Linked DNA regions of Homo sapiens: regions 1 and 3 are each linked to region 2. Evidence: fine-mapped expression QTL. A gene starts in region 2. Each other region holds a variant in brackets. All regions are shown on one strand. Distances are from middle to middle. Region 1 overlaps NCEH1 (neutral cholesterol ester hydrolase 1). Region 2 holds the start of NCEH1 (neutral cholesterol ester hydrolase 1). Region 3 overlaps NCEH1 (neutral cholesterol ester hydrolase 1).

The links.
Region 1: its variant is fine-mapped to the expression of NCEH1 in testis (GTEx, PIP 0.93).
Region 3: its variant is fine-mapped to the expression of NCEH1 in whole blood (TOPMed, PIP 0.91).

Annotation. Positions count from the first base shown.
Region 1 is chr3:172,637,145-172,648,000 of GRCh38, reverse strand. NCEH1 (neutral cholesterol ester hydrolase 1) reads left to right here. Exons shown (of 5, transcript NM_020792.6): 2 at 1-115; 3 at 2,309-2,378. Among named protein-coding and RNA genes, the nearest start is that of LINC02068, 47 kb to the right of the region's middle. The variant A/C (reference allele first, on the strand shown) is at 5,955.
Region 2 is chr3:172,706,013-172,716,868 of GRCh38, reverse strand. It overlaps NCEH1 (neutral cholesterol ester hydrolase 1), which reads left to right and starts at 5,802. Exons shown (of 5, transcript NM_020792.6): 1 at 5,802-6,022. The coding sequence starts at 5,885. RefSeq lists enhancers at 5,352-5,491, 5,536-5,830, 5,752-6,021, 5,151-6,350.
Region 3 is chr3:172,668,349-172,679,204 of GRCh38, reverse strand. The region is part of intron 1 of NCEH1 (neutral cholesterol ester hydrolase 1); the gene reads left to right. It overlaps LOC124909457 (a long non-coding RNA gene), which reads right to left. Exons shown (of 2, transcript XR_007096170.1): 2 at 2,512-3,258. Among named protein-coding and RNA genes, the nearest start is that of NCEH1, 37 kb to the left of the region's middle. RefSeq lists enhancers at 1,141-1,776, 1,777-2,412. The variant AT/T (reference allele first, on the strand shown) is at 4,624.

The DNA of each region.
Region 1 (10,856 bases), 69 kb after region 2:
ACAGACTTTGATGGTGTGGAAGTCAGAGTGTTTGAAGGCCCTCCGAAGCCCGAAGAGCCACTGAAACGCAGCGTCGTTTATATCCACGGAGGAGGCTGGGCCTTGGCAAGTGCAAGTGCGTCCTGGTCACCTTCAGATGGTTTGTTGTTGTGGTTGGCCTTGGGGGAGATGCGTAACTGAGTTTGGCTTTCTTAGTGGGAAAGAAGGGGACCATTTATCTAGGTTCCCCTGGATGGTCCCAGTTACCCCTGTTGTCCCAGCAAAATTATGACTAGTGCCCCCTTTTCACTCTCAAAAGGGTCCTGGTTTGGGTGATAAATTAAATGGTTATCCTTTGTAAAGGTTTTTTGCTTGTTAGTTTGTTTGTCAATTCAGGTAGACTGTTGTAAAAATATTTCCTATGATCTAAATCACAGACTAACTTATTGTGCAGTGCTGATACAGCTTTCTGCACCAAAACAAGGTGAAGTTTCACCAGGCACGCATATGGGGAATTATCTGTGCTTCTTTTGCCAACTTGTGTTTTGAAGATATATTTCTATGAAATAGACCAGGTATTCCTTAATACACATGTTAACATTTTATCTGCTTATGAAAGCAAAGGTAAAAATATATGCAACCATTCAAAGGAAACAATCTTGCAAAGTTCAAGAATATTTTCTTTAGATTTGGATGATTTTTATGAGTAGAACACATTCAAAATGGCAGGCAGCCAAACAGAGCCGCCCAGAAGAGAACCTCCCAAGGCGGAATTCGGGGTCTTGTCTCTGCTAATAAATGATCATGGAGCTACTTCCTCATCTTCAGTCCAGAGCTTTTGGCATCCCCTTAGTTTAAAAGCAATGGCAACTTGTTTTTTTTATTTTATCATTATGTGATTTTTTTTTAAAAGCAACAAAGGTCAAAAGGTTTGACTTTTTCTAGTAATCTTATTTAATTCCATATCCGTTGTTTATTCTTTTATTCAGTGATTTTTTTTCACATTTTCAATAGCTGTTCATGAGTATGTAGGTTTGCCCGAGACCAAGGGGTTTGCTGGGCTGCAGGTCTTTCAGTGCAAAAGCTCAAACAGTTGTGGGCAAGTCTGGACCATTGGTCAGTCTAAGGTGTGCTCGGGTGTAGGGATACAAAAATGAATAAGAAGGAGTTTCTGCCTTAAAAGAGATTGAATCTGTAGCATTGGACGCTTGCCAGGAAAAACATTGTACTGGAGGACAGCAAGTATGGGTGCCAGGAATGGGATGGATTACAAGAGTCAGCCTGGCCTTTTCTGCATAATTTTGACTGATCACTTCTGCCTGAGGAAGAACTTGAGCAGGTGGAGGTAACAGGTGTCTATGTAATTCTTAAGCTTCCGATTCTAAGACTGCCTTGGAAACCCTATAAATAAGGAAATGTTTGGCTCTCAGTTGGCACAATATAGATCTTAATTTACTGAGAGTAACTAAGAATTAAATTCTTACATATTAAATTGGTTCTGTTACTGCAGACCTTTGGAATCCTCTAAGAAATGCTAAGACTTCCTAAAATTCTAGTTTTTTACGTGTTCATTTAAAGAAAATACCATATTCTTCAAATTGATCACTTTACTGAACTGCAGCAAATGAAGTGTTAAAAGAGCAAAATTGTTAAAATTATTATTTTTAGACATAAGATCTCACTCTGTCACCCAGGCCAGAGTACAGTGGCTCTATCACAGCTCATTGTAACCTCAAACTCTTGGGCTCAAGTAATCCCCCTTCCTCAGCCTCCCAAGCAACTGGGACTGCAGGCGTGCACCACTATGCCTGGCTAATTAAAAAAAATTTTTTTATAGAGGCAGCATCTGGCTATGTTGCTCAGGCTGGTCTCAAACTTCTGACCTCAAATGATCTCCTTCCTTAGCCTCCTGAAGTGCTGAGATTACAGGCATGAGCCACCACTCCCAGCCTAAAATTGCATGATTCTAAGGAAGAGACTGCTTATTTGCTGTGATTTTTTTTCCAGAAAGATGTATACATTTGAAGAGCTATAAAATCAGGATTAATTTGGTGCATTTCATATAGTCCGTTATGAAATAAATATTTAGATAGTAATATATTCAAAACTAAACTATGCATTTCCTGTTATATAGTAGTTGCATGTTATTAGAAATCAGATTTAATTTTTCATGTGTACATGTAACTCTATTATTTGTTCACATTTGCTTTTTATTATTTGTTTTTAGTATTAGCTCCAAGCCTAAAAACAATTCACACTTAGCAGAATTTATGAGTGGACAGTATTAAATGACCTGTTTTGTAATGATTGTTCCCTTTGTGTCTTTTAGAAATCAGGTATTATGATGAGCTGTGTACAGCAATGGCTGAGGAATTGAATGCTGTCATTGTTTCCATTGAGTAAGTAATTAATGCTAGTCATAGAAAATTTTTCTTATAAAGGAATTCTAGATAACAGTCTGGTTACTTTGTTTTACAAGTGATAAAGTAAAAAATAAAGGTCTCAAGTTGGCAAAGAGATATGCCCAAAGTCACACTCAGCATAATCAGAAAAATGATTTCTGATGTAACAAAATTTATTGAACTAGCTTTATAACACTTCAAATTACCTTTTCACCGTTAGTTTTGAAAACTGAAAAAAGGATTAACTAAAAACCTAGAGAAGTATGCAATCAGTTACCTGCAACATATAACTTTTTAAATCTAAAAAGTAGTAAGGATTTTAAGAGAATCTCTTCTACAGCTGAGAGTTGAAAAAGTTGCTCTCTTAGAGTCAGGTTCTATGACTTGTGCCTTGGGAACAGAAATACGTGTTCAACAAATTTTAATGGTGTGGTTAGTAGTAATAGTAGTAATATTAATATTTTGGGTTGTCTCTGTCAGTTCTGTATAAGCCACTTTTCTGGGCAACTAAGAAGAATGTGAATAATAATTATAATAATTTTGATGATAATAATAATACAACACAAAAATCACGCCATCTTTTTTGTACCAGGCATTGTGCGAATGCTTTTGCACACGTGTCTCTTCTTCTTTAGGTCTTTTTTAGATACCATCCTCTCAGCCAAGCCTTTTTTTGACAAGCCTTTGTGAAATTGCAACCCACGTTCCTCTGTTTCATTTCTCTCCAAAGCTATCATCAATATCTGACAAACCACATATTTGACTTATTATGTTTATTGTAATAAGTGGAAATAGACAATATGAATTTTATAAAGGCAAACATTTCAGGATTGTTGTTTGTTTTGTTTATTGCTGAATCATTAGTGCCTGGAAACATCCCTGGCATATGGTGAGCATTCAGTAAATATTTATGGAATGAATGAATGAAGCACCTTAATTCTCATATAAAACATCCAAGATATTTTGATATCTTTTTCATAAGTGAGGAAATTGAGACCCAAGAAGCTAAGTGATGTGCATAAGGCCAGATAGCTAGCTCATCGCATAGATGGGGTAGGGGAATAAGTCAGATAGTTCCTGAGGTCTCTGGACCTTTTTGATCCAGTTTCAAGCCACTATTGAAGGGAGCTTATAATGCTGAGTGGCAGGGCCATGACGCCAACCACTTTTTCTTGCCCCAGGCTCATTCAGTTCTCTTCTTCCCTCTGCCTCTCTGTCAGCTATCCTCCTGTTCATGGTGCGCCACCTCCTTGCTCCTACTCCAGATTTGAGTGGATCTTTTCTTCTGCAGTCTCTTGAAAGGGGCTGCTCAGAGTCACTGAGGCAGTTCTGACCCTGTTGACAGAAGCCCTAGAGTCACCCAAAAGCCCTAGAGTCACCCCAAAGCCCTAGAGTCACTCAAAAGCCCTAGAGTCACTCAAAAGCCCTAGAGTCACCCCAAAGCCCTAGAGTCACCCCAAAGCCCTAGAGTCACTCAAAAGCCCTAGAGTCACCCAAAAGCCCTGCAGTCACCCAAAAGCCCTGCAGTCACCCAAAAGCCCTAGAGTCCAGACAGCTGGAGCCAAATCTGCTGAGGAAGCAGCCACCGCACCTGGACCTTTCTGGACTCTCAGCAAGGCCTCCCAGATTACTCAAGGGTTGTCAGTGCAGTTTGGTAATACAGGAACCTTCAAGGAAATGATTTGGGCAGTTGGCCTGAGCAGCTGGCCAGAGGAAAGCACAGGGGATGTTTAAGGAGACAAGGCCCTACAGCTCGGTGTTGAGGAACAAGCTTCAGGGGCCATTCAGTTGGTTTCTTGTGTAGCCCCAGCTCCTTGCAGGCCTGAGAAAAGGAGGGAAGCTGGGCTTGCTTCAGTTGGCACCGTGCAGATTTTCCATTTACCACAGGGCCTACCCTCCGGGCTTCAATATCACTATTTGGCCACATGCCCTAAACCGTTCCTCCATTCCCTTCTCCCCTTATCAGCATCTGTCTCAAGTAAAATGGGTATTGCAAGGCTTATCATAAGACACAGAAGAATAAGATATATTTAAGAGGATTTTTTTGAAAAGGGCTAAAATTTAGAAGGGACTGCTTTGATTTAAACTTTGCATTGTTCCTAATCTATACAACATGGTGTCCAGATGGGAGGCATGAGCATATGGCAGTCAAGTTCCATCACTCATGACTGTGTGACCTCAAGCAGGTCATTTAAACTCATGTGCAAAATGGGGTTGAGAACCCTTCCTGTATGTTTAGAATGTGAGCTACTGGGAAAACAGTGAGGTATGGTGGTGTGCCTTACTTGAGAGGCTGAGGTACAAGGATTACTTGAGCCCAGGAGTTCGAGTCCAGCCTAGGCAACACAGGGAGACCCTATTTTTTAAAAAACAAAGCAAAGGCCAGGCGCGGTGGCTCATGACTGTATCCCAGCACTTTGGGAGGCTGAGGCAGGTGGATCACCTGAGGTCGGGAGTTCGAGACCAGCCTGATCAACAACATGGAGAAACCCCATCTCTACTAAAAATACAAAATTAGCCTGGCATGGTGGTGCATGCCTGTAATCCCAGCTACTGGGGAGGCTGAGGTAGGAGAATCACTTGAACCCGGGAGGCGGAGGTTGCAGTGAGCCGAGATTGAGCCATTGCACTCCAGCCTGGGCAACAAAAGCGAAACTCTGTCTCAAAAAACAAACAAACAAACAAACAAAGCAAAAACAAAAGAATGTGAACTCCTGGAAACAGAAATCACGTCTTCCTTCCTTTGCATCTCCAGAACCCAGTACAAGGCTTGGAGTGTGCATGCTAGGTAAATGCATGCTGAGTTGGGATAATGACTGCAGAGAATTGTCATGAGAATCATTTTAGACAATTGATATAAGAGGAGTTCAGATATTCAAAAGCACTAGCTGAGTCTGGAGGATTATTGCTCTATCTAGCCTATAGAATGAAAAGGACAACTTACACGTTTATTTATCAGCATGTTTGGAACTCACAGTACTTTTTTTTCTTTTTCTTTTTTTTTTTTTTTTTTTTTGTAGAAATAGCAAGATAGTAATCCTTGTTAAGATTCAGGCTAACCCAAGAGCACTTTATAACCTATGCTGTAGTTGAGGTACAGCCAACATTATATGATCATGATGTTTCTCTTGGAAACGATGTTCAGGCCTGGTGTAGTGGCTCACACCTGTAATCCCAACACGTTGGGAGGCTGAGGCAGGTGGATCACTTGAGTCCAGGAGTTCAAAACCAGCCTGGACAATATGGCAAAACCCTGTCTTACAAAAAGTTAAAAAACAATTAGCCAGGCATGGTGGTGCATGCCTGTAGTTCCAGCTACTCAAGAGGCTGGGTTGGAAAGACTGCTTGAGCATAGGAGATCAAGGCTGCAGTGAGCTGAGATTGCGCCACTGCACTCCAGCCTGGGTGACAGAGAGAGACCCTATCTCAAAACAAAACAAAACAAAAAAATAGAAAAAAAAAGCAGTTCAGAGCGGGATCTCAGTGGCTCGCTTCTTTCTTCTTTCTTTTATTCCATAAATATTTACTGGATTCCTGTTTTGTGCTAGTTACCGTGTTAAATGCTGGTGACAT[A/C]ACAATGTAAGAATGACTTAATTCCTGCCCTCATAGAGTTTATGATCTAGAAGAGAAAGACCTTGAATAAGTAATGTTAAAAGTGTGATAAGTGATGGGAAGTAGAAGGGCAAGTAGTAACAGAGACATCTAACAGGCAAGATCTTACCTCGTTTAAAGGATCAGAAAAGGTGTCTTAAAGAAAGTGATGTTTGGATGAAACCCCTAAGAATGAGCAGAACCTCATTAGAAAAAGTGGATTTGTCATGGAAGACCAAAGTGGTGTAGTAAGAGGGCTTGGGAGGGGAGGGACGAGGCAGAGAGCAGTGAGGGAATGAAATGTGAGAGAAGACAGACGGAGGGACGACTGAGGAAAACAGAAGTAAGTGTGGATGATTCCAAGAGTCTTTAGGAGGATGGTGGACGCTTGGTTCTTCTGGAGCTCCGCCTTCTAGAAGACAGGCTGTCTGGAGCCAGCAGCTCCTTGCCTTGAGGCCCTCTAGAGTGGGTAGTGGCGTCATGGCTTTGCTATTCTTTCATGTGGATTATGGCACTGGGGAAGGTTTTTATCTGAGGAAGCTGGTGGGCAGGGGTTCCAGCAGCCTTGGTAATGGAATCACCTCTTATGAGCACCAGGAGTTGGGACTCCATGATTCATGTCACTCATGCTGGCTCAAGGGTCTGGGGACAGACCAAATGACTGATAGGTGAAGTCCTTGAGTACAAAACCTACGTAAAAGCTATGTCTCCTACTCAGTAGCTTCTACAACGCTATACTATTTTTACATATTAATTGCACAATAAGTATTTGTTAAATACATTACAGTGTTTATCTAAGATTTGCAGATGTATCCTCATTTATACAATCTAGAATATAAAAGGCCTTATATTTATAAATTTCAGTGCAGTTTAACTATAATAGAGTATTTTTTTACCTCTAGTTTATGTATTTTTTATTTATTTATTTTTGAGACAGAGTCTCACTCTGTTGCCTAGGGTGGAGTGCAATGGTGCAGTTTTGGAGAAACAGTCATCCATCCACATTCCTTCCCCTCGAGCACAGTTTTATTATATGTTCTTTTAATGAAAAGGAAGCTTCTGGGTGGGATGCAGTGGCTCACACCCGTAATTCCAGCACTTAGGGAGGCAGAGGTGAGAGGATTGCTTGTGGCCAGGAATTTGAGGCTGCAGTGAGTTATGATGGTGTCACTGCACTCAAGCCTGGGTGACAGAGCAAGACTGTCTCTTAAAGGGGACAGGGGGCCGGGCGCAGTGGCTCATGCCTATAATCCCAGCACTTTGGGAGGCTGAGGCGAGCGGATCACGAGGTCAGGAGATCGAGACCATCCTGGCTAACACGGTGAAACCCCATCTCTACTAAAAATACAAAAAATTAGCCAGGTGCGGTGGCGGGCGCCTGTAGTTCCAGCTACTCTGGAGGCTGAGGCAGGAGAATGGCGTGAACCTGGGAGGCAGAGCTTGCAGTGAGCCGAGATTGTGCCACTGCACTCCAGCCTGGGCGACAGAGCGAGACTCCGTCTCAAAATAAATAAATAAATAAAATAAATAAATAAAGGGGGCAGGGAAGAAAGGAAGCTTTGCTTTTTTTTTGACCTTGTGATGCAACAGTAGAAAGGAAACTTCTGTTAGTGGAATAAATAGATTCTCCCTCTGGAGTTGTCTCACTCAGAGAGCACAATCTGGATTTAATTATTGATTTGTTTTGGATATCCCCTACTAAAAATACCCCTAAGACAGTGGGGAATATTAACTCTTTTATGTTCCCAAAATGAATCTATTGAGATTTTCTTGGGTGATGGTGAAAAGTAAAAAAGCTGGAAAAGGAGTGAGGCTTATCCTCTCTCCTGCTGAATCTGATAGGAGTATAATTTTATTCCAGAATGCCGCATGTATCTTTCACCTAAGTAGTACTATATGAAGAGAACTTGGCGTCCCTTCCACAGCAGAAGGTTGTGCATATGGCTTCCAGGTTAGGTTATTTTGAGGAAGAATTGCGCATTTCAACCCTCTTAGCACATTGGTGTCATTCGGGGCTTGGGGGCATAGGTTTGAAGTCAGTTGTGAGTTCAGATCCCAGTTCTGCCACTTCTAGCTGTTACAGACAAGTTACACATTTTCCTTCAACCTCACATTCTCATCCTTAAACCCAGAAGTTTGCTTGAGATTTGAGTGACATACGTCTGTAGAACATTTGGCAAGGTACCTCACCCAGCAGGAATATGGTCATTTTGATAGACTGTACACATTAATTTGATTAAACCTCATGCCTGAATTTACACCAAATTTTGTTCTTCTGATGGGAGTTACATGCAGTGATAAAGCTAGGTAATCCACTTGTCATTGCAGAGTCATCCTCTCCCTGAAGTGAGTTGGGCAAATTGAGGAATATATATGCATCCATAATATTAATATGATATAACATCTTTGATATTTACGTATCAGGTGCTTTAAGATCTGCAGTTTTTAAATATTGAATGTCAGAACCCTCTTTCACTACTTTGCAGGGACATAGCTTTGAGCACCAGCAGCAGAGAGCAGATATATTTATGTATGCTTTATTTGGCTGTACCACCCATGAATTTCCTCCTGATTCTTGGCTTTCTGTGTCTAGATATTACAAAATTTTGATATACTTCTTAGGTGAATTTCAAGCTACTTTGAAAGTTCATCTTATGCCAGGTAACCTAATAAATATCTACTTTCAGGATATTCTTCAGTCTACAAAGTCTCCATTTTTTTTTTTTTTTTTTGAGACGGAGCCTCACTCTGTCACCAGTCTGGAGTGCAGTGGCGTGATCTCGGCTCACTGCAACCTCCAACTCCCTGGTTCAAGCGATTCTCCTGCCTCAGCCTCCCGAGTAGCTGGGATTACAAGCACATGCCACCACACCCAGCAATTTTTGTATTTTTAGGAGAGATGGGGTTTCACCATGTTGGCCAGGATGGTCTCGATCTCCTGACCTCGTGATCCGCGCACCTTGGCCTCCCCAGGTGCTGGAATTACACCATGCCTGGTGCTGGTGAGCCACCGTGCCTGGCCAAAAGTGTCCATTTTTATTGAGTAAAACTGAAGAATGTTTCCAGCATGAAAACAGATGAGGGGAGGGGTTAGGCCATGGATCTTTATGGCACCAGGAACACTCTTGCATCATAACCTGTTTGTTTTTAAGCATGTTTATCCTATTATATAAGCCAATTATTAATTGAGAAGATTGAGCAGTAGCATGTTTTTTTTAGGTTACCAATTGCCTTTGATCAAAGTCTCTCAGACCTTTTCTGAAATAACATCTAAAAACTCAACTTATTTGACATATGGATGCTAGTGGATATGTTCTGACCATCTGGGCAACCAGGAAAACAGTTTATTGTGATATGTGGGATATTGCTGAAATGAAATAACCTTTGTTTTCACAACTTGAGTCATGAAGTACATTTGTTTTTATTAAAATTAAAAGTTCAGCTTGGTAATACTGAAGATTAAAAATTGAGACCCACCCCCCACCCCAAGAACTAGGGGTAAATAGACTCATATGAAATGATGTCATCTAGTGGACAAAACTGCGTAATTCTACTTTTTTGCTCAAATGGAATTATATAGATTATATAGCAGCAGCTTTCATACATAGTGAAAAATCAACTGGAAAAAAAAAGCATTTTGCATGATTAATTGACCACCCCAGATGGAAAAATAAGAAATTAGAAAATTTATTTTATCTGCTATATGGCAAACGCTAAGGGATTTTTTTTTTTTTTTTTTTTTTTTTTTTTTTGGACAGAGTCTCGTTCTGTCGCCCAGGCTGGAGTGCAGTGGCGCGATCTCAGCTCACTGCAAGCTCCGCCTCCACTAAGGGAGTTTTTTTATTGCATTTAGTTTCAAAATGTGGTAATTCCGGAATGACCAGATCCACATTCACTACTTGTCAACGTATTTCACAAACATTTGTCCATTTGATTTTATCTACAATGAATGTCAAGATGTTTAATTACCTAGCAGGATTTTATTTTGAGACAGGGTCTTGCTCTTTCGCCCAGGTCTTGTTCTTTCGATCTCAGCTCACTGCAACTTCCACTTCCTGGGTTCAAGTGATTCTCAGGCCTCAGCCTCCCAACTAGCTGGGATTACAGGTGCATACCACCATGCCCGGCTATTTTTTTTTTGAGATGGAGTCTTGCTCTGTCACCCAGGCTGGAGTGCAGTGGCACCATCTCGGCTCACTGCAACCTCCGCCTCCTGGGTTCAAGTGATTTTCCTGCCTCAGCCTCCTGAGTAGTTGGGATTACAGGCGCCCACGACCGTGCCTGGCTAATTTTTGTATTTTTAGTAGAAACGGGTTTTCACCATGTTGGTCAGGCTGGTCTCGAACTCCTGACCTCAGGTGATCTGACTGCCTCTGCCTCCCAAAGTGCTGGGATTACAGACCTAAGCCACCGCACCTGGCCCTTTTTTTGTATTTTTAGTAGAGATGGGGTTTCACCATGTTGGCCAGGCTGGTCTTGAATTCCTGATCTCAAGTGATCCACCTGCCTCAGCCTCCCAAAGTGCTGGGATTACAGGTGTGAGCCACCGCTCTCAGCCCAACTAGCTGGATTTTAGACTGTGGAAAATAAATGTCTTTATTTAGAGTAGCTTAGAAAAAATTAGTTTGTGAAAATAAGTATGCTAATTATAAGATGGAAATCAAAAGTCTTGAGTCTTCATTGGCTGTTATTAATTTTTAATTAGGTAATTAGTTTTTATCCTACCTAATTTTGGTCTGTTTTTGAGTTTTTGCAAATCAAGTAACTTTTGTATGCCTTAGTTTCTTCGTTTGCAAAATGAAGGTATGTTAATACTCAAAAAAGATTTATTGGATGGATGATTATGTGCCCCTCACATTGGCAGATACTGGAAGCACAGTTATG
Region 2 (10,856 bases):
ACATTGCCCAAACCAGAAACTTTGAAGTCATTGCTGGCTCCATCCTCTCCCTCTCCCTTTCAAGAATCCAATTAGGAAATTCCACCAATTTAACTTCTCAATGATTTCCTTGCCTTTCAGTATTCACCACTATTCCGTGCCTCTAGTTCAGACAGACCCCTCTCTGACCACTTCCTCTTGGCCTCTTGTCAACTTCTCCTTCTTCTTCTCCTAAACAGTAAATGCCAACACCCTTTGGCCTGCTTTTCTTCTGCCCAACCCTAGACCCTTCCCCATCACGCGGGCGCGGACACACACACACACACACACACACACACACACAGCTTCTGTCTCATTCATTGTCATGGCTTCAGTTACAGGATGAAGATTCACATTTACATCTCCAGCTTGTGTCTGGGAGCCTACGTACTGTCTCTACTTAAATGTTTTATAGATACCTCAAACCTAACTCTTCCAAACTAAATTTATCATTTCCCCTTAAATCTTTTACCCTTTACCATTCTTTATCTCTGAAAAGGCAACACCATTCTCCCATCTGCTTCAGCGAGTGACCCGGAAATTCATCTTGACTCCTTTATTCTCCCTTTACAAGTCTTCTTGATTCTACCTCTCAGGTATCTTTTGACTCTTCATTCTCATTTTCATCACCTGATACAAGTTTATGCTAATACCATCTCTATCTTGCACACCTTAAAAGCAACATCCTTGACCAGGTGCAGTGGCTCATGCCTGTAATCCTAGCACTTTGGGAGGCTGAGGTGGTTGGATTGCCTGAGCTCAGGAGTTCAAGACCAGCCTGGGCAACACAGTAAAACCCCATCTCTACTAAAATACAGCAATGACAAAATTAGCCAGGCATGGCAGCGTGCACCTGTAGTCCTAGCTACTTGGGAGGCTGAGGCAGGAGAATTGCTTGAACCTGGGAGGCAGAGGTTGCAGTGAGCCGAGATCACGCCACTGCACTCCAATCTGGATGACAGAGTGAGACTCCATCTCCAAAAAAAACCAAAAAGCAAAACAAAAACAAACAAACAAAAAAACAACATCCTCCCAACTACTTCATCTGTTCTCTCCCCACACACATACCCTGTACATCGCTACCGGAGCGATCTCATGCAAACCCTTCAGTGTCTCTCCACTGCCTAAAGGATAATGTTCAAACTCTTCAGTGACATAACACACTCGTAGCAGGCCCTCATTGTGTGATCCCTAACTCTTCAGGTTATACTCTCATTACACTCCACCTCCCTGCATCTGATGCTCCAGAAATATTGAACTATGTGTAGTTCTCTGCTCCCATCACACTTCAGAACTCCCATATAATCTCTTCTTTCTGCTTGGGATGGTCTCACTTATTGTCTGCCTGTACACACACTCCTTTTCAGCCTGCAGAACTTGCTCAGTCATCGCCATTTTTGAGTATTTCTTATTCCTCATTTTTCTGGAACAGAATTTTGACTTCTTCTGTGTTACATTTCTGAGCTGTGTACATATTTGAAACTATCTACTTATCTGACTTTCTCTCTAACTAGAACACTTTTTCACAAGGAAAGGAACTATATTTTCATCACGACAGCATCTACCACAGTGCCTTACAGATAGCAAAACTCAATAAATGTTGAACTAAAGTTCTGCTTGTCGTGGATGAAGAAAACCACTTCACATGGTGTAATAGATGGAATTTTGGGAAAATTATTTCAAGTGATAAAAATAAAGATTTTGTTAAGCAATGATATTGCTATGTCATATATTTAGATGTTAATAAAAATTAATCTAAGACAATTCCATAAAAACGGAAAAGTCAATTTCTGCACTCAAACTACACCTTATTGCCTTAGAAACAGAGTATTTTGACTCTTGTTATCATCGTTCATAATTTATGAGTATGTCTTATCTCCCCTATCTCTAAAATATACCCAAAATCTGTCCCCTTGATTCCATTGCTAAACTAAACTGCAGCTCCGGGCCACCATCATATCTCATCTGGACTACTGCAAAAGCCACCTGACAGGTCTTCTCCACATGGCAGCTGTAGTGCTCCTTTTTAAATATATGAATAGATCAGATCATGTCACTTTCCTGTTACAAAACCTCCAATTGCTTCCCATTGTACCAGAATATTCAAACTCCTTAACATGGCCTACATGGTCCTAAATGATCTGCTCTTCTGCACCCACACTACCTCTGTGGCTGAGCCTGTTCCACCACCTTTCCCACAGTACTTCTGCCTCACTAGCTGTTAGTGTTCATTGACCGGGTTAGCATCTTAGAGCCTCTGCACCTGTTCCCTCCACCTCCACAACCCTGCATGGCAGTCTTCTCCTGTCATGCAGATGTCAGCTCAAATGGCATCTCCTTAAAGAGGTCCCCTTTCCCACCCAATTTAAAGCAGCTCCCAGACACCCTGTTCTGTTTTCTCTCTCTCTCTTTTTTTTTTTCTGAGACGGAGTTTTACTCTTGTTGCCCAGGCTAGAGTGCAATGGTGGAATCTCGGCTCACTGCAACCTCCACCTCCCGGGTTCAAGCAATTCTCCTGCCTCAGCCTCCCGAGTAGCTGGGATTACAGGCACGTGCCACCACACCCAGCTAATTTTTGTATTTTTCATAGAGACGGGGTTTCCCCATGTTGGCCAGGCTGGTCTCCAACTCCCAACCTCAGGTGATCCACCCACCTTGGCCTCCCAAAGTGCTGGGATTACAGGCGTGAGCCACCACGCCCGGCCATTTTCATTTTTAACCACTTAGCAGTAGAGCTGAGTGGTAAAGCACATGAGCACTAGGCTCAGACTCTGGGCTCACATACCAGCTGGATGGCTTGGGCAAAGCACTTCATCTTTCAGTGCCTGTTTTTAGAGTAACAATGGTACCTATTTCGTAGAATCGTTATGAAGCTAAATTAGTTAATATATTCAAAGTGCTTACCACAGAATTACCTCATAGCAAGGCAAATTAATGCATGTTGCTTATTAATTTTTGTTTGTTTATTGTTTGGCTCTTCCTTCTGTATCATGCTTACATCCTCCCCTGAACCCCTCCCCACCACCCTCCAAGCATATAAAATCAAAGAGTCGAAACCTTACAGCCTGCCTGCCACAACTTCTTTATTTCCCAGTGTAGGCCAGGTATGTTTGTTGAATGAATGAAGTATTGAAAACAAGTGATGAAGGTGTTTATACTTATCTCAAATTAGTCTCATTTTAAAAAACTCTCAGATCTACAGAGGCTCTCAGATTTCTGATCTGAGAATTACTACAGTTTCTTTGTTCTTTCTTAGTTTCTATCTCTTAGTGTACTGCTTAAGGGAAGCCACACTTCACTGAGAGGCAGAAATAAATATTGCTACTATCACTTACAAACTAGAGGAATATGAGTAAGCCATTTGGCTGCGCTAATCCTCAAGAGGCTCATCTATAACACCGAGTGTGTTAACTGCTGGTGGAAGAGGGAAGGCTGAGTTAGGTGTGGGGATTTTTGGATTTGTTTGCTTGTTTGTTTTTGGTTCGGTTTGGTTTTGTCATTAGCTCTAAGATCTATGTTTTTATGAACATATAGTCAAAATCTAAGAGAAAAGTATTGTCGACAAGGTAAAACTTGGATTTATTTTGCAGATTTCCTGAAAGCAAGTAATGTAACTAAATCCAGTAGTCAGCTTGGTTTATATCTCCAGGATTATTCCTAATCACCCATAAAGATTAGCTTCTGGCTGGGCGTGGTAGTTCACACCTGTAATCCCAGCACTTTTGGAGGCTGAGGCAGGTGGATCACCTGAAGTCAGGAGTTCAAGACCAGCCTGGCCAACACGGTGAAACCCTGTCTCTACTAAAAATACAAAATTAGCTGGGCTTAGTGGCAGGCATCTGAAATCCCAGCTACTCGGGAGGCTGAGGCAGAATGGCTTGAACCCGGGAGGCAGAGGTTGCAGTGAGCCAAGATTGCACCATTGCACTCCAGCCTGGGTGACAAGAGCGATGCTCTATCTCAAAAAAAAAAAGAATAGCTTCTAATTTTCTACACATATACTCACACACAAACATAAACATAAACATTCCTATCTGTTTAGAGTTATGAGTTTAACCAGTAACTTAAAAGACAGAGAGAGAGAGAGAGAGAGAGAGAGAGAGAGAGAGAGAGAGAGAGAGAGGCCAGGTGCCGTGGATCATGCCTGTAATCCCAGCACTTTGGGAGACTGAGGTGGGCAGATCACAAGGTCAGGAGTTTGAGACCAGCCTGGCCAGCATGGTGAAACCCCATCTCTACTAAAAATACAAAAATCAGCCAGGTGTGGTGGTGGGCACCTGTAATCCCACCTACTGAGGAGGCTGAGGCAAGAGAATTGCTTGAACCCAGGAGGTGGAGGTTGCAGTGAGCTGAGATCGTGCCATTGCACTCTAGCCTGGGCGAAAAGAGCAAGACTCCGTCTCAAAAAAAACAAAAAACAAACACCAAAAACAAACAAAACAAAAAAAAAAGAGAGAGAGAACTTGCTTGAAATACCATGAAAGTGTGCCCTTCTTATCAGTTTTCCTTCAATGTTGAAGAAGAAGCCAACTGTTTCCTAAAAATCTCATTATCAGAACCAAATTTATGGTTATTTCACTTCTATTAATTTGATTAAATTAAAATTACCATCTTAAGATGCATAATTATATATACTAGGTGTTTTAAGACCTTCATCAATAAGTTTGGAGTTGTCATCCTACCACTTTCTTGAAACAGGTCTTCTAACTGTTTTCCTTCTGGATTTCTGGTTGAAATTTTGCTAGTGAAGTTTTCTCTCTCCCATTCAGTACTCACCCACCCCTCCTCACCCCCAATCATTAACAAGAAATCTGGGTTTAAGTGTATTTCTGCTACCATTGACTCACTGAAAGAATTTTTCAGGTGATATCCACACGTTTCTCCAATAAAAAGTTATTATTTTTTCCCTTTGTAGTAATTTGTGGAGAGATCTTCTGATGAAGGACCAAAATTCTGTGTCAAATTTTTACCCTCTAGTTTTAGCATTCATTTATGATTTTCTATGGATACTAGCTGGCATTCTATTTTAAGAAAAGCCTTTCTTCTTTCCTCATTTATTTATATTAATATAGATTGTTGAGTTTTATTTTAATCAATGGGTTATCCATTATGATGATTTATATTGATGGTAAAATTATCCCAGCTTCAGCCACTGGGAGACCCTTCAAGCTGGCAGCTGTGGACCTTTGACCAGTTCCTATCATTTTTTGAGCACTTCCGCATCTCTGGCACAACAGGTTCATCTTGTACTTTACAGCCCCAGCCCTGGTATCAGCCTTTTCTCCAGAGGTTGTGTCAAAAAGCCGTGGTTCCTCTTATTGGAGCATAGGATTTAGAAACCAAGACTTGGGTGCTAGATGTACTACTGGCCTTTCATTGCTTGAGCCAGAAGAATTTAATATCTTCTTTTGCCATATATCAGCTAGAACTTACAAACCACTCCAAGTCTGGCTCCAGAAAACAGAATTTTTATATCCTTTCTCAGTACTCTGAGTCAGAATGACCCACTTGCTTTGTCCAGAGACTCGTCACACTGAAACTATTTTCCGTTTGAGACCTTCCAGGAGGAAAGCCATCCTCACACGCATGCAGTACAAACCAGTGTCCTCCAGAGTCCGCTGTGCCTACGGCCAGAGCAGCGACAGAGCCTTCCTCAAACCTGTAGTGACTGCCACACTTTGCAAGGACACCGTAGAGGGGGCATGTCCGCGCTCCAACTTCCTCCCGACGCAGCCTCTGATTGGCTCCTGGGCTTATAAGAAACGCGTGAATGAGCAGCTGCCGCGGGCAGAAAGTTGCCGGAGGTCTCCGGGTGGTATCGCCCTTTCCTCTTTGCCAGCCCGCTGGCGAGCCGAGCCAGGGCAAGATGAGGTCGTCCTGTGTCCTGCTCACCGCCCTGGTGGCGCTGGCCGCCTATTACGTCTACATCCCGCTGCCTGGCTCCGTGTCCGACCCCTGGAAGCTGATGCTGCTGGACGCCACTTTCCGGGGTGCACAGCAAGTGGTGAGGTGCAGCCCAGCGCTGCTTCTCTCTTCCTCCTCTTACGCAATATTTGAAGGGGATACAAAATTCCTCCGCCGGGTTCCACGAAAACGCAGGTTTTTCCTAATGCATTGAGGCTGTCGCTTTTTGAGGTGGTCCAGTCGGGAATTTTCAGGGTATCGCATTCGCCTCCTTGCTAGCAGCGGGCTAGATCTGCATTTCCCCGTCTGCGTTTGTGACGGGGAAGAAGTGCTTGAATAGAATTTGACAACTGTTTAAACCTTCGTCTGTCCTAAATATCTTCCTCTTCCTTGGTTTGCAACGTCAAAAGGCAAATCCTTAAGCAGTTTATAAACCACCCTTCTTCACACTGTCGTTCTCCCATAGGGACCGGCAGAGGATAAATATTTTTAGGAGAGCTCGGGAAAAGCAGGCTCTGGTTCCTGGGAATGCAGCCACCTTAGAAGCAGAAGCAGGCAAGGGCAGTCTCGCAATGTCCCCAGGCTGTGGAGCGCTCCGTTCCCGGAGACAGCAGGCAGGGCTCTCCATCCAAGCACTTGAGGAACCATAGGGATCTCTCGTTTCACCCGAGGCAGATCTCAGCTCAGCCCAAGAAAGAGGACTGGGAGGCTGGGCTGGCTGAAAGGAGGTGAGGAGGCGGCAGCCCTGGTTTGCATGATGCATGTTTTCTGCTTGCCCTGCAGCATTTATTTTATGTCCTTGGCTGTCAGATAACCTTTTCCTGAGCGAGGTTACCTGCCTTAACCTGGGAGGGTAACATTTCTCTCCACTGTATCATGGGCGTGTGTTCATTCCTTCCATACACAGGAAAATATAACTGTCTCTGGTTTATTCCATGGTAAGAGGCATTATTTTTAGTGTCAGAGAATCTAAAATCTAAACTACAGTCTGCAGCCAAGGCTGAGCCCTCTGATTGGACAGTATTTCTGAGCAGCCTGCTCTATCTAAACTCTAACCTTCTCCAAAACCAAGCCTCCTCCCTCCCCACAACCTTGGGCTTTAATCTCAGAATATTTTTATAAACTCTTTCTTTCAGAAATGACAACTAGAGAAAGAGAAAAAAAATCATTTCAACCTGAGAAAGCTGATTTTAAAAAAGTCATGATTTTCCCAGAGGGTTTATGTTCCTGTTCCCTGTCCACTCATTATGTGTAGGATTACATAATCTGTGGGGCTTTATCCTATGAAAAGTCCCCTTACTAGGATATTGCAGCACATTCCTAGCGTGGATTTGCTTTTCCTGAATTCAGCCACATTCTCACCTCCAAAGCCCCTTTTGTCTCTTAGGAAAGGTCTATGAAGCTATAGACCCCTGCCCCCCTTCTTTTCCTCTTGCTTCCTATAATGTTGACATGGTGAAAATGATCATCCCCTTCTTTAGCACTGGTGTCAAGAAAGTCAGTCTTGTTGTAGGAAGCCTTGCATTCCCTCTCCTCCCCCATGAAATTATGTAATTTGAAAGTAATACCCTTCAAAGATTGAGGAACAGTGATGTTTACCTGGGTGGGTTAATGGTCTACTACAATAACTTAAACAGAGGAAAACAGGAAAAAGATCAAACTGCTGTGTTGGCTGCAGAGATTATTCTTAGTTTTCAGGTCACCAAAGAAGTCTTCTCCATCATAAGTTAATCTCGGACAAGCTAGGTTTGGAGAAAAGCTTTTCTTTCCCAGCTAGGCTTGCCAGCCCATTAAGGACAAGGCTGTGTAAGGTCCTCCACAGAGTATACCCTCAGGTGGTGCTTGGGAATGATAGTGGGTGTAACCTGAAGTCAGCAATAGATGAGGTAACCAGTGTTCTCACCTGACACTGTGGCTCAGGAGTGGATTTGCAGAAAAATGGCTCTTATCACTTCTCCTCTAAATTGTGAAATATCAGAAAGATCATTATGATCAGATGGAAACATATTCTACCCAATAAAGCAATTTTCCAGTGTCACCTCAAATCTTCCTGAGTTTTCCCTGTAAAATAGGGCAAAAAACTACCTTGTAGGTTTGCTATAAGGTTTAGTAATGTATTTAAGTGCCTGGTACTTGTAGTGAGTCTTCTAGTTGTCCCCAAGGGTCCATTGTGGATTGTGGGAACATCTATAAGAATGCTTACCTTTTTTGAAGCAATAAAATAAATGTAAACTGGAAGTAATTTATGTGATTGAAACCTGGAGTGCTACTACTAAATTACCTGGTGTCATGGCCTGGGGCGGTGGCTCACGCTGTAATCCCAGCACTTTGGGAGGCCGAGGCGGGTGGATCACGAGGTCAGGAGTTCGAGACCAGCAGCCTGGCCAACATAGTGAAACCTCTTTCTACTAAAAATACAAAAAATTAGCCAGGGCTGGTGGCAGGTGCCTGTAGTCCCAGCTACTTGGGAGGCTGAGGCAGGAGAATCGCTTGAACCTGGGAGGCGGAGGTTGCGTTGAGTCGAGATTGTGCCACTGCACTCCAGCCTGGGCAACAAGAGTGAAACTCTGTCTCAAAAAAATATATAAATAAATAAATTGCATGGTGTCAACCTCGTTACTCAGATAATTTTAGTTTGAGTTGATTGGCTCAACTACAAAAGCAATTTAAGCTGTTTGAGAGATTAAGCTCAGCCTATTTCCTAAGACAGCATCAGCTGCCTACCATTAAGAAATGTGAATGTTAGTTTATTCTGTTGTCATTGGCAAATACTTTATGCTTTAGCATTTTTTATGTCCTTTATCTTGTGCAGTGAGTCAGACTATTGAGATTATGTTCATTGTGCTTTTTTTCCTTGGGGTTCCCCATATTCCTTAAGAAGCAGCTACTTAGGATCTCTCTGACTCCTCTCAAACACAGATGCTATGTCAGAATCACCTAAGAACTGTTTAAAACAAACCAAACCAAAACAAAACACTTGATGCCCAGGTTACACCACATACCAAACTTACTTAGAATCTCTGGGAGATGAACGTTCTTAGCAGTGTTTAAGAAAAGTTCCAGCCGGGCGCGGTGGCTCACGCCTGTAATCCCAGCACTTTGGGAGGCCGAGGCGGGCGGATCACGAGGTCAGGAGATCAAGACCATCCTGGCTAATACGGTGAAACCTCGTCTCTACTAAAAATACAAAAAAATTAGCTGGGCGTGGTGGCAGGCTCCTGTAGTCCCGGCTACTCGGGAGGCTGAGGCAGGAGAATGGCGTGAACCCGGGAGGTGGAGCTTGCAGTGGGCCGAGATCAGGCCACTGCACTCCAGCCTGGGCAACAGTGTGAGACTCCGTCTCAAAAAAATAATAATAATAAAAATAAAAAACGAAAAGTTCCCCAGATGATCTTCATTGCAGCAAAACTTGAGAACCACTGCTCTATAAGATAAAAGGCATTGCTGTTGTAGACAATATATTTTCCTTAAACTGCGTGTTATATTGCATACGTGTTGCTGGAAATGAGCCCTTTTACATTAGCATGGATTAGTTTATCAGATTAGTTGACACTTTGGCCCTAAGGGGATAAAATACTAGCTAGGCAAATTTCTGTGTTATAGCAAAGCCACCATAAGACTTGAGCAGTGGAAAAGCACAAACAAAAGTAGGTCTGAGAAGGGCAGAGGTGTAATTTAGATGATCAGGCAGCAGGAGACTAGAGGAACAAAAGAAGAGAGTTTGGGGAAGTCCTGAAGGCTGATTTCCAAATGCTATGCAGACAAAGATTTTTTTTTTTAAATGGTAATCTCAGTGCAGGTTAAAATACTAAGTGTACACTGCTGGAGAAAATGTATGTTAGAACCACGTTTTTGGAGAACAGTTTGGCAATATCCATCAAAGCCTTATAAGTGTGTTTATTTTTTGACCCCGTAATCCCTCTAGATGGAATTTATGGTAAGTAATGATGGATATAGGCAAACCTCTAGCTATAAAGATGGAAACATTTTACAGGATTAAAAAACTTGTTCATCAGCACCGTAAGACAAAGAAAAAAAACAAAAACTTGTTGAACTTGTCTAAAAGCACTGCCACTTATAATAAACGTGAAGTAAAATCGAGCAATCTTTTTTTCTTTTATTTGCAGCACCATTTAAACGAATGAAGGTCGGGTGTGGTGGCTCATGCCTGTAATCCTAGCACTGTGGGAGGTCGAGGCGGGCGGGTTACCTGAGGTCAGGAGTTCAAGACCAGCCTGGCCAACATGGTGAAACCCCGTCTCTACTAAAAAATACAAAAAATTAGCCGGGTGCAGTGGTGCGCGCCTGTAATTCCAGCTACTTGGGAGGCTGAGGCAGAAGAATCGCTTGAACCAGGGAGGTGGAGGTTTCAGTGAGCCGAGATGGTGCCACTGCACTCTAGCCTGGGCTACAGTGAGACTTCGTCTCAAAAAAAAAAAAAAAAAAAGAAAAATGTAAGAACAGTAAAAGATTAAATAATGGTAAATTCATATTTGGGAATACTAGGCAGTTAAAAAAATTTAGGTTGTAAAATGTTTAATGACTTGCAAAAGATTTGTACCATGTGTTAAGCAGGAAAAGGCTACAAAATAGATCATACACTATTTATATATCAAAACATGTATCTATGTTTGTATAGAAAAAGCAGAAAGATATAATTTAAAACATGATTTTTTTCTTCTGGGCCATAAAGTTGTATCTTCAGTTTTCGTATTGGTGTATTCTAGATTTTCTACAATGAACATGTAGTAATAAATTATTTTAAAGCTTTTTTTAATCCAGGCATGGTAGCTCATGCCTGTAACCCCAGCACTTTGGGAGACTGTTGTGCCAAACCCCCATTAACCTCAGTAGTGAAGGCACCAGGTTGAAGAGGCTGAAGAAGATTCCCAGAGCCTGCAAACAAGACATGGGTTTTTTTTTTTTTTTTTTTT
Region 3 (10,856 bases), 38 kb after region 2:
GTCCCTCTTCCTTATTTAAAGGTGTTTTTACCTTTCTCAGCATTCCACAAGTTACTTCCTCCTTCCTTCCTCCTTCCTTTGTTCTCCTGTACCTGTGCCTCTTTTTAAAAGTTCTAAGTTGCTAGCCAGTCGGGACAAATACAGAATGTGAGGTCCCATTCCAGCCAATGGAAAGCGGACACAGCAGTAGGGTGGATGCGTCAGGTTATAAATGACCCTGCCTCCTTTGTTCGGTGTACTCTTGTGGCAAAACTTCTGGCAAGTGTACCCTTTCTGCAGGAAGTAAAAATGGCCTTGCTGAGTAAATTAAATTTATGTTCAAGTGCTATTTCTTTATGGCACCAGGGAACAAGCATTTCAAACGGGGGTGAGGGTTGAAAAATGACCTGTTTGGTACAGTGTTCACTATGTGGATGATGGGTGCACAGACTTCACCACTACACAATATATGCATGTAGGAAGCCTGCAGTTGTGCCCCTTTAAGGTATATTTAATACATATAGTTTAAAAAATTTTTTAAATGTTTGAATGAGTAGGTAAAAAATAAATATGGACCCTTTTCCTTGTGGTGGAGTATTTTATCTGTAAATTCTCCTCAGGAAGATCATTATATGGAAGATCTCAATTGTTGTATAGATATTTTGATTGAGACTTTGTTAGACATTAAACAAGTTTGTTGTAATTGTGGATCTTTCAATAGACTAAACGTTTGGAAGGAGTGACTTGTTCCAACGTCTTGGATCCGTTAAAACAAGAAGCTGCTCCTGGTGTAGATTTAAACACTCCATTGTGTGTTTTCCCAGATTCTGTCCCAACAGCCAGTGACTTCCTTCTTGCCTCTGGAACTGGCAGGCCATCCTGTCTTGTAATGCCTCAGGCCAAGGAGGGACTGAGCTGCATTAACTTGAAACTACTGGCTGTAGAAATTGTCCTTATTGTAAAGGCTTGGGCTTTTGTACTGATGCTAATTTTCTCAGACACTGTTTATGTAGGCAAAACTCCTGCTAACCAGCCCAGCAGATCAGCTGGCAGAGAGAATGTGCTGCCAGTGGGGTAGAGTTTGGGATACATTTCATGACCTACTTCCCCTCCCTACCCTGATTTTTAAACCTTTTCATCTTAAGTGCAGCAAAACCTGTGTAATAGGAGAGGTTTCCGTTTAAAATAATGACAGTGTTTAAAATAATCACAGCTCTGATTGATAATATTCAGAGCAGTGGGTCAGGATCAGTCGAACTTTTGAGAGTTCTGGTGCTTGCTTTTTATTTTTATTTTTTGAGATGGAGTCTCGCTCTGTCGCCCAGGCTGGAGTGCAGTGGCACGATCTCAGCTCACTGCAGGCTCCGCCTCCCGGGTTCACGCCATTCTCCTGCCTCAGCCTCTCAAGTAGCTGGGACTACAGGTGCCCACCACCACGCCTGGCTAATTTTTTGTATTTTTAGTAGAGACGGGGTTTCGCTGTGTTAGCCAGGATGGTCTCAATCTCCTGACCTCGTGATCCGCCCGCCTCGGCCTCCCAAAGTGCCGGGATTACAGGCGTGAGCCGCCCCCCCGCCCCTCCCCCACCAACAGCTTGCTTTGTCACTTAGGGCTTTATGATCCTGAGCAAAGCATTTAACTTCTCTAAGCCCCAAATGAGCATACGAGTGTAATACCTGCTGTTCCTATCACAAGTCCTTGTGACATTCAGATGAGTGAAAGTTCAAAAGGTCATAAACTGTAAAGGTCCATTTGAAAGAGTACATGGTTTATTATTATGTATTTTAAATAGTAGGCAATAACTTGTCATGATCACCATGTGAATGTGTACAAAAGGGTACTTAATTTATTATCATCTGAATCTGGCTCTTCAGATATCAGTAGATGTCTATAAACATCATTCCCCTTGTATCTTTTGTGTTTATGTGCCATTTAAGACACAGTTTTTTCAAAGATGATGTCTAATTTGCCACTTCCTGCACTTTGTAAAAAGCAGAAGATTAACCCAACTTCTGGAGTGTCCTGTGTAACACATTTGTGAAGTCACAGGGCATGAGTGGACAAGCTCTGAACTGTCATATCAAAGAAGGGAATATGGGAGGTTTTGTTTGGAAGTTTAATTCTTCTGTGCTGCTTTTAGTCAGCTGCTACTTGGAACACTCAAATGAAAACAAATGCTGCTGTCCTGGCAATCAAGGGAGGCTTTTAGCAGCTTGGGTAGCCTCAGGAAGGGCATTTGTTTATGACCTCGTGTACATGAGGCACTGGAAAAAAATTTGGCCCCCGAGACCCAGACTTTTTCCCAAGGAGCTCACGATCTAGTTATTGTTGTGGGAGGTAACAGAGATGTGAGTATAAACTTAATTTTTTAAAAGTCTCATTTTTATGTGCCTGTGTGTATGGAAGGCAAAGGAGAGTGAGACAAGAATAGGACCAAGAGAGGTGTAAATGACATGGCTCCGATGACTGAAGGAACACCAGGGTCCTTGGTCTCGCGCCAGTTTAGATAAAATGACACAGACACGTGTGGAGTAGTTTTAAGGAGCGGAGAGTTTATTAGGCAAGAGAGAAGCAAGGAAGAAAACAGCTCCCCGGTACAGAGACAAAGGGAGGGGGGATTCGAACGACGAGAAACCCCGTGTGTGGCAGGAAAAGTGGTTGCTTATATTGGGATGCTGGAGGAGGTGGTGTCTGGTTTGCATAGGGCCCAGGGGATTGGTTTGACCAGGTATGTTATTTACATTGCCTGTGAAAAACCTGGCGAAATTTCCCACCTTAGCTCTTTAATATGCAAATACGGATCGCCATGATGTTCTGAACACATGGTATTATCTGGAGGTAGCCATGACACTTGGCACACATGGTGACAAGAAGAAGGCAGGAGTCGCCATATTGGGTGGACCATTTCTAACGGGCGGCATTTGCGTATCAAAGCTTCCTGGCCCGGCCCTTCAAGCGGTTTTTCTGTTAGAAAAGAAATGGTTCGGGGTTTGCTTTTATTAACAGAAAAAGCCTTACCAAGAACTCCTTTTAGCCTCTCTCTCTGCCTAAAAAAACTTTTTTAAGTAACACCTGTATTATTTCCCCCCTCAAGAGAAGCAAACCTAACTGCTGTTAGGGGGTGTTGGACGATGATTCTTTGTGGCCACTTCCTGCTGAAAAGGAGCATGCAGGGGAGCAGCAGTTGGGCCTTCTCCTGAGGTTGATTTAAGGATTCTTGGAAGAATGGCGTGTCCATGTGTGGTTCTGCTTGCAGTACCATTTGGAGTTTAATTGCTTCTAGGCGAAAAGAGATACGTTTTACAAGAAGGTTTAAAATATAGTGTTAGAATAAGAGCATTAAGATTACCACCATCAGTGGGGGTCCTGTAGACCATAACTGACTTAGAGTTTGGTACCTATTAGTTACACCAATGGATTGCAATACTGGATTGTCTACACTAGATGTCGCTGTACATTACCAGAAACGTTAACATAAAAGTAACATTTTCCTTGAGAACAGCATGCATTTCTCCCTTGACTTGCCATTAGAGAATAACTTTAGGCTTAGGCCATTTTTATAACTTGCAGTATGATTGAGAGAAATACGTTATTGGATGTCTAAAGTAACTTTAGCATTAATTTTGACAATTCCTTTCCTTTAATGATTAAATTTTTTCATGATTTTCACAGACTCTCTTACAACATACATTTTTCTGACTCATTCTAAACATCCTTCCTTTAAAAAACCAGTCATTTCCTTTTATGACAAGTATTTACCATACAAAATCCTTTTTTTTTTTGTAAAATTTTTTAAAAATTATACTTGTGCACAATGTGCAGGTTTGTTACATAGGTATACATGAGCCATGTTGGTTTGCTGCACCCATCAACTCACAAAATCATTTATTTATTTATTTATTTATTTATTTATTTATTTATTTGAGACAGGATCTTGCTCTGTCACCCAGGCTGGAGTGCAGTGGTGTGATCTCAGTTCACTGCAGCCTCCACCTCCCACGTTCAAGCAATTCTTCTGTCTCAGCCTCCCCTGAGTAGCTGGGATTACAGGCACCACACAGCTAGCTTTTATATTTTTGGTAGAGCTGGGGTTTCACCATGTTGGCCAGGCTGGTCTCGAACTCCTGATCTCAAGTGATCCGCCCGCCTCGGCCTCCCAAGGTGCCGGGATTATAGGCATGAGCCATCGCACCTGGCCACAAAATCCTTTCTTATATAAAATGTATTTCTTTATAACCTTTTTTTCATAGCTTAGAGTGCATTATATTACCAACCTTTAGTAAAAAGTCCTATTAAACGTAATGATAGTAAAACTTCTATGTTTGCTTTTTATCCGTAACTATTACTCCTGCTATAAGTAAAACAACTTTGACTAAATTTTTCCTGCAATTAATCCTGTTATAAGGATGATAATCAGGCAAAATATTATGGCAATTAGAATTTTACAACCAGAATTCCACATTGTGGGTGCCACAGTGTATAGTTCTATTGCGAATAGTAGCGTAACTGTAACAATTTCCACAAGAGTGGCATAGTAAATAATTTTCATTGAAAATTTTACTTGCCAAGATATAACATTTCCCTCTGGGGATTTACAAAGTTACAAATGCAATCCCATGTATAATTAAAATTTCCCTGTAAATA[AT/T]GCGTTAAAAAGAAGTTCTACTATTTGGTAGCAAATTTTGACAGGAAAGGATAGAAATGAAAAAAAGTATCTGTTGGGGTAAAGGTGGGACTGAGTAAGATGAGTAGCCCTCACTTTTTTTTTTTTTTTTTTTTTTTGGAGACAGAGTCTCTCCCAGTCGCCGAGGCTGGAGTGCAGTGGCGCGATCTCCACTCACTGCAACCTCCGCCTCCCGGGTTCAAGCGATTCTTCTGCCTCAGCCTCCTGAGTAGCTGGGATTACGGCACGTGCCACCACACCCGGCTAATTTTCTTTGGTATCTTTAGTAGAGACAGGGTTTCACCATGTTGGCCAGGCTGGTCTTGAACTCCTGACCTCGTGATCTGCCTGCCTCGTCCTCCCAAAGTGCTGGGATTACAGGCGTGAGCCAATGTGCTCAGCCTACTCACTTATCTTTTATAATTTTCAACTTAAGATGTTCTATTAATACCACATTTCTTGGGTTAAATAAAGGTTTTATTTCCTGGGGTTGGGCTTCTGCTGGTTGTGTTAATTCTTGTGGGAAGTGAGCTTAGAGAGGTTACATGCTTAACCAATTTAGAGCTTTTCTGCCTGAAAAGAAATCTCTGAACACATTGGTAAGTTTTATCCATTCCCAAGTAAAAAGCTCGGTGAAGGATTTTAAGGACTTTCATCGGCTGCAGGCTGGCAAATAGAGTTTGCCATCCTGACTGTCGCCGTCCTGAGGGCTGAAAAGTATGCGGCTGAGAAGTGGCCTATTCTGTTTCTGCAGAGGAATACTGAGGTTTAATTTCTTTTAAAATGGAGCCCTCCTAGATTAGAAGGGCTCAAAGTGTGTTAGTGCCTTGAGGCTTCCTTGCCTTTGACTTGGCTGCCTGATCAGCTAATCTGTTTCCTTCTGCTACCTTATCTGTTCCCTTTCAGTGTTCCCTACAATACATCCCTGCTGTCTCTCATGAAAGAAAAACTGAGGATAACCTGCTAATTTCCTGGTAATATTTTATAGGAGATATATTAGTGTTAAGAAAATGCCTTTCCTTTCAAATGGCAGCATGAGCATGGAAAATCAGGAAAGCATACTTGGAGTCAGTATAAATGTTAGCCACCTTTCCCTTGCTTAATTTAGGTGCTCTTGTAAGAGCTCTTAGCTCAGCCAATTGAGCGCTTGTGTTTGGGGAGAGTGACTACTGCCTCTCCTGCTTTATGTACCTCTTGCTTCACTGGCTGTTTGCCGGCTAAGAGCTCCCCCTAGAGGACAGTGATCCTGCCACATTATGTGGGGTGTAAACAGTTAAATTATTTCCTAGGGTTAACTAGGAGGCTTTTCTGACTAGTAGAGCTACTATGACAATGGCTTGGAAGCATTTGTAAATAGGTCCTCCTAACCACAACTAAGGTTGAGAAAAATATTGGATTAGAGTTTTTCTTGAAATGCCCCTTATAGTTGCGCTATAGGAAGAGAGGAGGCCTGGCTTAGAGAGGAGAAAAGAGAGAGACTGGGTCTAGTGTTTAGAAGGAGGTCTGCTTCCTTTTCTTCAATGTCCAGTATCACCTGGGGCTCCTATGCTATGATGGCAGTTTGAGCTGCTGGAGCTGAGGTTTGGGCCCCAGGACCCATCAGTCCTGTGGGACCATCTGTGAGACTGGCTCTGAACCCAGTGACCTCCATATCTGGGGACAGTTCTGTCTCCACTGGTTTTTGCCACTGGATGGACAGGGTTGAGGTGGCTTCGTCTTGCTGCCTGGGCATTCCTCTTTAAAATACCCTGGCCTGCCACACTGATAGCAACTAATGGATGCATCTTGGGGCTCCTGGACTTTGCCAGCCTGCAAAGCTGCTGCTAGAGCCTTTGTCCTTCCCCTGAGCTTTCTCTCTTTCTTTTGGGCCTCCTCCTGGTCCCTATTATAAAAGACCGAAGTGGCCCCCTTCAGGAGGTTCTCTAAGGTGCTATTTGGTCCCATAGCTTGCTTCTGTAGTTTTCTTCTAATATTGGGAGCTGCCTGTGTAATAAAACTGTCCTTCAGGATGAGCTGTCTCTCCACTGAATCAGGGGATAAAAGGAAGAGTGTTCTATTAGTGCCTCTATCAGCCTTTCTATAAAGGCCACAGGATTCTCATCTGGCTTTTGGTCTATTATAGACAGTTTAGAGTAATTGAGAGGTTTGGCCCTGGTTTTCCATAGGCCTTCTAAAACGCGTATTAAAAAGGGCTTCCTGGCCAGGTGCGGTGGCTCTCACTGTAATTCCAGCACTTTGGGAGGCTAAGGCAGGCAGATCACCTGAGGTCGGGCGTTTGAAACTAGCCTGTCCAACTTGGTGAAACGGTACTCAACATGTAGGCAATTATAATGCAGTGGTAAGTATTTGTAGATCTAATACTTGGTGAAACTTGGTACTCAGCACTGTAGGCAATTACAATGTAATGGTAAGTATTTGTATATCTAAACATAGAAAAGGTACAGCAAAATATGATACAAAAGATTAAAAAATGCTACCCCTGTGTAAGGCACTTACCGTGGAGCTTGCAGGAGTAGAATTTGCTCTGGGTGAATCAGTGAATGAGTAGTAAGCAAATGTGAAGGCCTAGGACATTACTATGCATTACTGTAGGCCTTATAAATACTGTACACTTAGGTTACACTAAATTTGTTTTAAAAATTAAGTAATTGCACTACAATGTCACAATGACAACAATGCCACTAGGTTATAAGAGTTTTCCAGCTCCATCATAATCTATGGAACCACCCTCATATATGTGATCTGTTCTTGAGCAAAATGTCATCATGCAGCACCTGACTATATGTAACAAGTATGTGTGTGCCTGTGTGCATGTGTGTATGTATATATACATGCTACATTTATATACACCTGATATGTGCATGTGTAATTATATATGTAACAAGTATGTGTGTGCCTGTGTGCATGTGTGTATGTATATATACATGCTACATTTATACACACCTGATATGTGCATGTGTAAATATATATACACACATGTAGCAGGTGTATATATAGGTAGCATATATATATATTTGTATATATATCTATATATGTGTGTGTGTGTGTGTGTGTGTATGTGTATGTGTGTGTAGCAGCGGTTTTGTGCTAGAACCAAGAGCCTGGAACTGGTACAATGAAAATATTTTACCCGAAAGGTATGCTAAGTAAAAGTCCCAAGTTTCACACATTTTTGAGGATCAAAGTGAAGAACTCAAAGTGAATTATTAGGTAATCATATCTACTTCTTCCTAAACCCTCCATCTGATTCTGTGCTAAAATTTAATAAATACCAACTGATCTTTCCATCTCCATAAAATTCTTTGAGTTAACGAAATCCTACTTTCTGGTTTCTGAAGGATGGTATTCTGCAAATGTAAAAGTTTCCCTTAACCTCCAAAAAATAATTGGGTTAATCCAGCTACCACAAGTGTGAAATTGAGAAGCTGCTTGCTAAGATTGAATTTAATATTGTCACATGTCATCTGAGAGCTGCTTGTCTGATCATGTTGCCACTGGACAAAGTAAGCCTTACTACAAAGGATAAAAGAATGATTATTTCAATATCCAGTCATAGTTCATCATCAAACTCTGAGTAAAATGGAGAGAAAAAGACGTTTTATCTTATATGACTATGCATTTCTCTGGGAAGTCATTTATCTGGTTACTATCTAGGAGAGCAAAGATAATGGGAAAAATCTTCCATTATTCTCAACTATAATTTTAAATATGAAATTTTCATAAAATAGGTTTTTGGTTCTTTTAAAAGCCCTCAATATAAGAAAATGAAATATTAGAAACTTATTTTATAAAATATATTTGTGAACCATAAAACCCCATATAAAACGGAAATTATTATTACCATTAACTACTGATGCTTCTAATGTTATTCTCTAATGGTTAAAAAATGACTAGAATTTAGAGTTACTGCCAATATATGGGGAGGATTTTATAAAAATAGCTTTATTCATTTGCATGTTAAGCAAGAGTGTGATTACTGATGGCCGTAAGAGTCCCTTGCTGCTTTAAGCTCTGCTCTGCTGCTGACTCTACATGTGTAGCTTTGAGAGGTCCTTTAGCCCCTCCAGCTTTCCTCATAGTCAGGATGTGGCTATTGTACTTGATGATATCCCAAACATGCTTCTGATTCCAACATTCAATGGTTCTGTGATATTTCTACCTTATTAGAAAAGACATTCACTTTAAAAGTATAAACGCTGTAGTAACTTTTTTCTTTCATTGTTTTCAATAAAAGTGTAATGGAAGTAAACTGACAAGTTTAGGAGGCTTTCAGAACATAAAGGAGAAAGGCTGACAGCTCTTGAGAACCTCTTTGCTTTCAGCTGAGAGCAAGTAGAGAATGCTTGCTCTCTGGCCCTGAATGTCATAATATTATGTTCAGAATCATTGAAATGTCTGACAACACTGTTGATTAAAAATGAGAATCATTAGGTCATGTCTGCCGTTATAGGATGAAGGGTAGTTTGAACAGTGTGAAAAAAACTATCCCAAAAGGATGATTTGTCTTAGACAATATTAACAAAATTTCAAATTATAATATGAATAGTAATTTATAGTAATTCACTTTTCTTATTTTTCTATATTTAGCTTTATCTTAAAAGTTCCTGTTCATTGGTAATGCTTTGAAAAATGCTGGATTTAGAATTATGGACTATCAACTAATATTATGGATGATATTATTTAGAAACCATTCTGTATGCTACACAAGTCCTTTGAAAATGATATGAGCTGGACACAGTGGCTCACACCTGTAATCCCAGCCCTTTGGGAGGCCAAGGCAGGTGGATCACGTGAGGTCAGGAGATCAAGACTAGCCTGGCCAAGATGGCGAAACCCCATCTCTACTAAAAATACAAAAATTAGTTGGGTGTGGTGGCAGGTGCCTGTAATCCCAGCTACTCAGGAGGCTGAAGCAGGAGAATCACTTGAACCCAGGAGGCGGAGGTTGCAGTGAGCCGAGATTGTGCCACTGCCCTCCAGCCTGGGTGACTCCATGTCAAAAAAATAAATAACCACTAAAATGGCTATTATTCATCTTTCAAAATCTGTTAATACCTGGAAGTTCTGCATGACCTTTAGGAAAACTACATCCACAAAACATTCCTTCTAGTTTCCTAATAAGTTTTAGAAGAAATATTACCATTCTGAGCTAAAATAGTTCTACTTCCTTAGGGCAAATTCCTCTCATAACATGAAATAGGCAAATACAATTACTCTAAAAAAAGTTCAGCCATAGCATCTTAGAGTTTAAAGGAATAACCCTTAGGAGTTCACATAATTTTTTTCCACTGCTTCCTAGGCAGATCTCATTTAGTGTAGCTGGCGTGTTGCCCTGCCCACACGAACAGTGGACTTCTCCAAACATTTCTTTAAATATTTTTCTCACAAAATGAGAAGTTGAATCAAAACGTTGGTGTTAATTCAGTGTCTCAAAGACATTAGACCCAAGGCCTCTGTCTTTTCCTCATGGTTGCTGATGAAGGCCGAAGCTATAGCCATAATGGTAATATTCCAGTTGGAGAGAGAAGAAACTACTCTTTTGTATACTAAAAATACAAAAATTAGCTGGGTGTGGTGGCATGCGCCTGTAGTCCCAGCTACTTGAGAGGCTAGTACAGGAGTCGCTATGTTTTTAGCCAGCCCATTCAGTTTTTGTAAAGCTCCATCATTACATTTTTCATCATACTGACCTAATACCTAGCTATATTTAGCTTGCTCACGCTCTGCCTTCTGGGGGGAAAATATATATGTCTGTGCATTCTCTATATCTACCTAGTATCAATTAGAGTTTTATGTTTTCCTGCATGTAACAGAAAACACGTTAACAGTGGACTTCTCCAGATACTTCTTTAAATATTTTTCTCACAAAATGAGAAGTCGAATGAAAGCATTGGTGTCAATTCAGTGTCTCAAAGATATTAGACCCAAGGCCTCTGTCTTTTCCTCACGGTTGCTGATGAAGGCTGAAGCTATAGTCATCACGGTAATATTCCAGTCGGAGAGAGAAGAAACTACTCTTTTGTAAACTAAAAATACAAAAATTAGCCAGGTGTGGTGGCAGGTGCCTGTAGTCCCAGCTACTCAGGAGGCTGAGGCAGGAGAATCGCTTGAACCTGGGAGGCGGAGCTTGTAGTGAGCCGAGATTGTGCCATTGCACTCCAGCCTGGGCAACAGAGCGAGACTCTCTCAAAAAAAAAAAAAAAAAAAAAAAAAA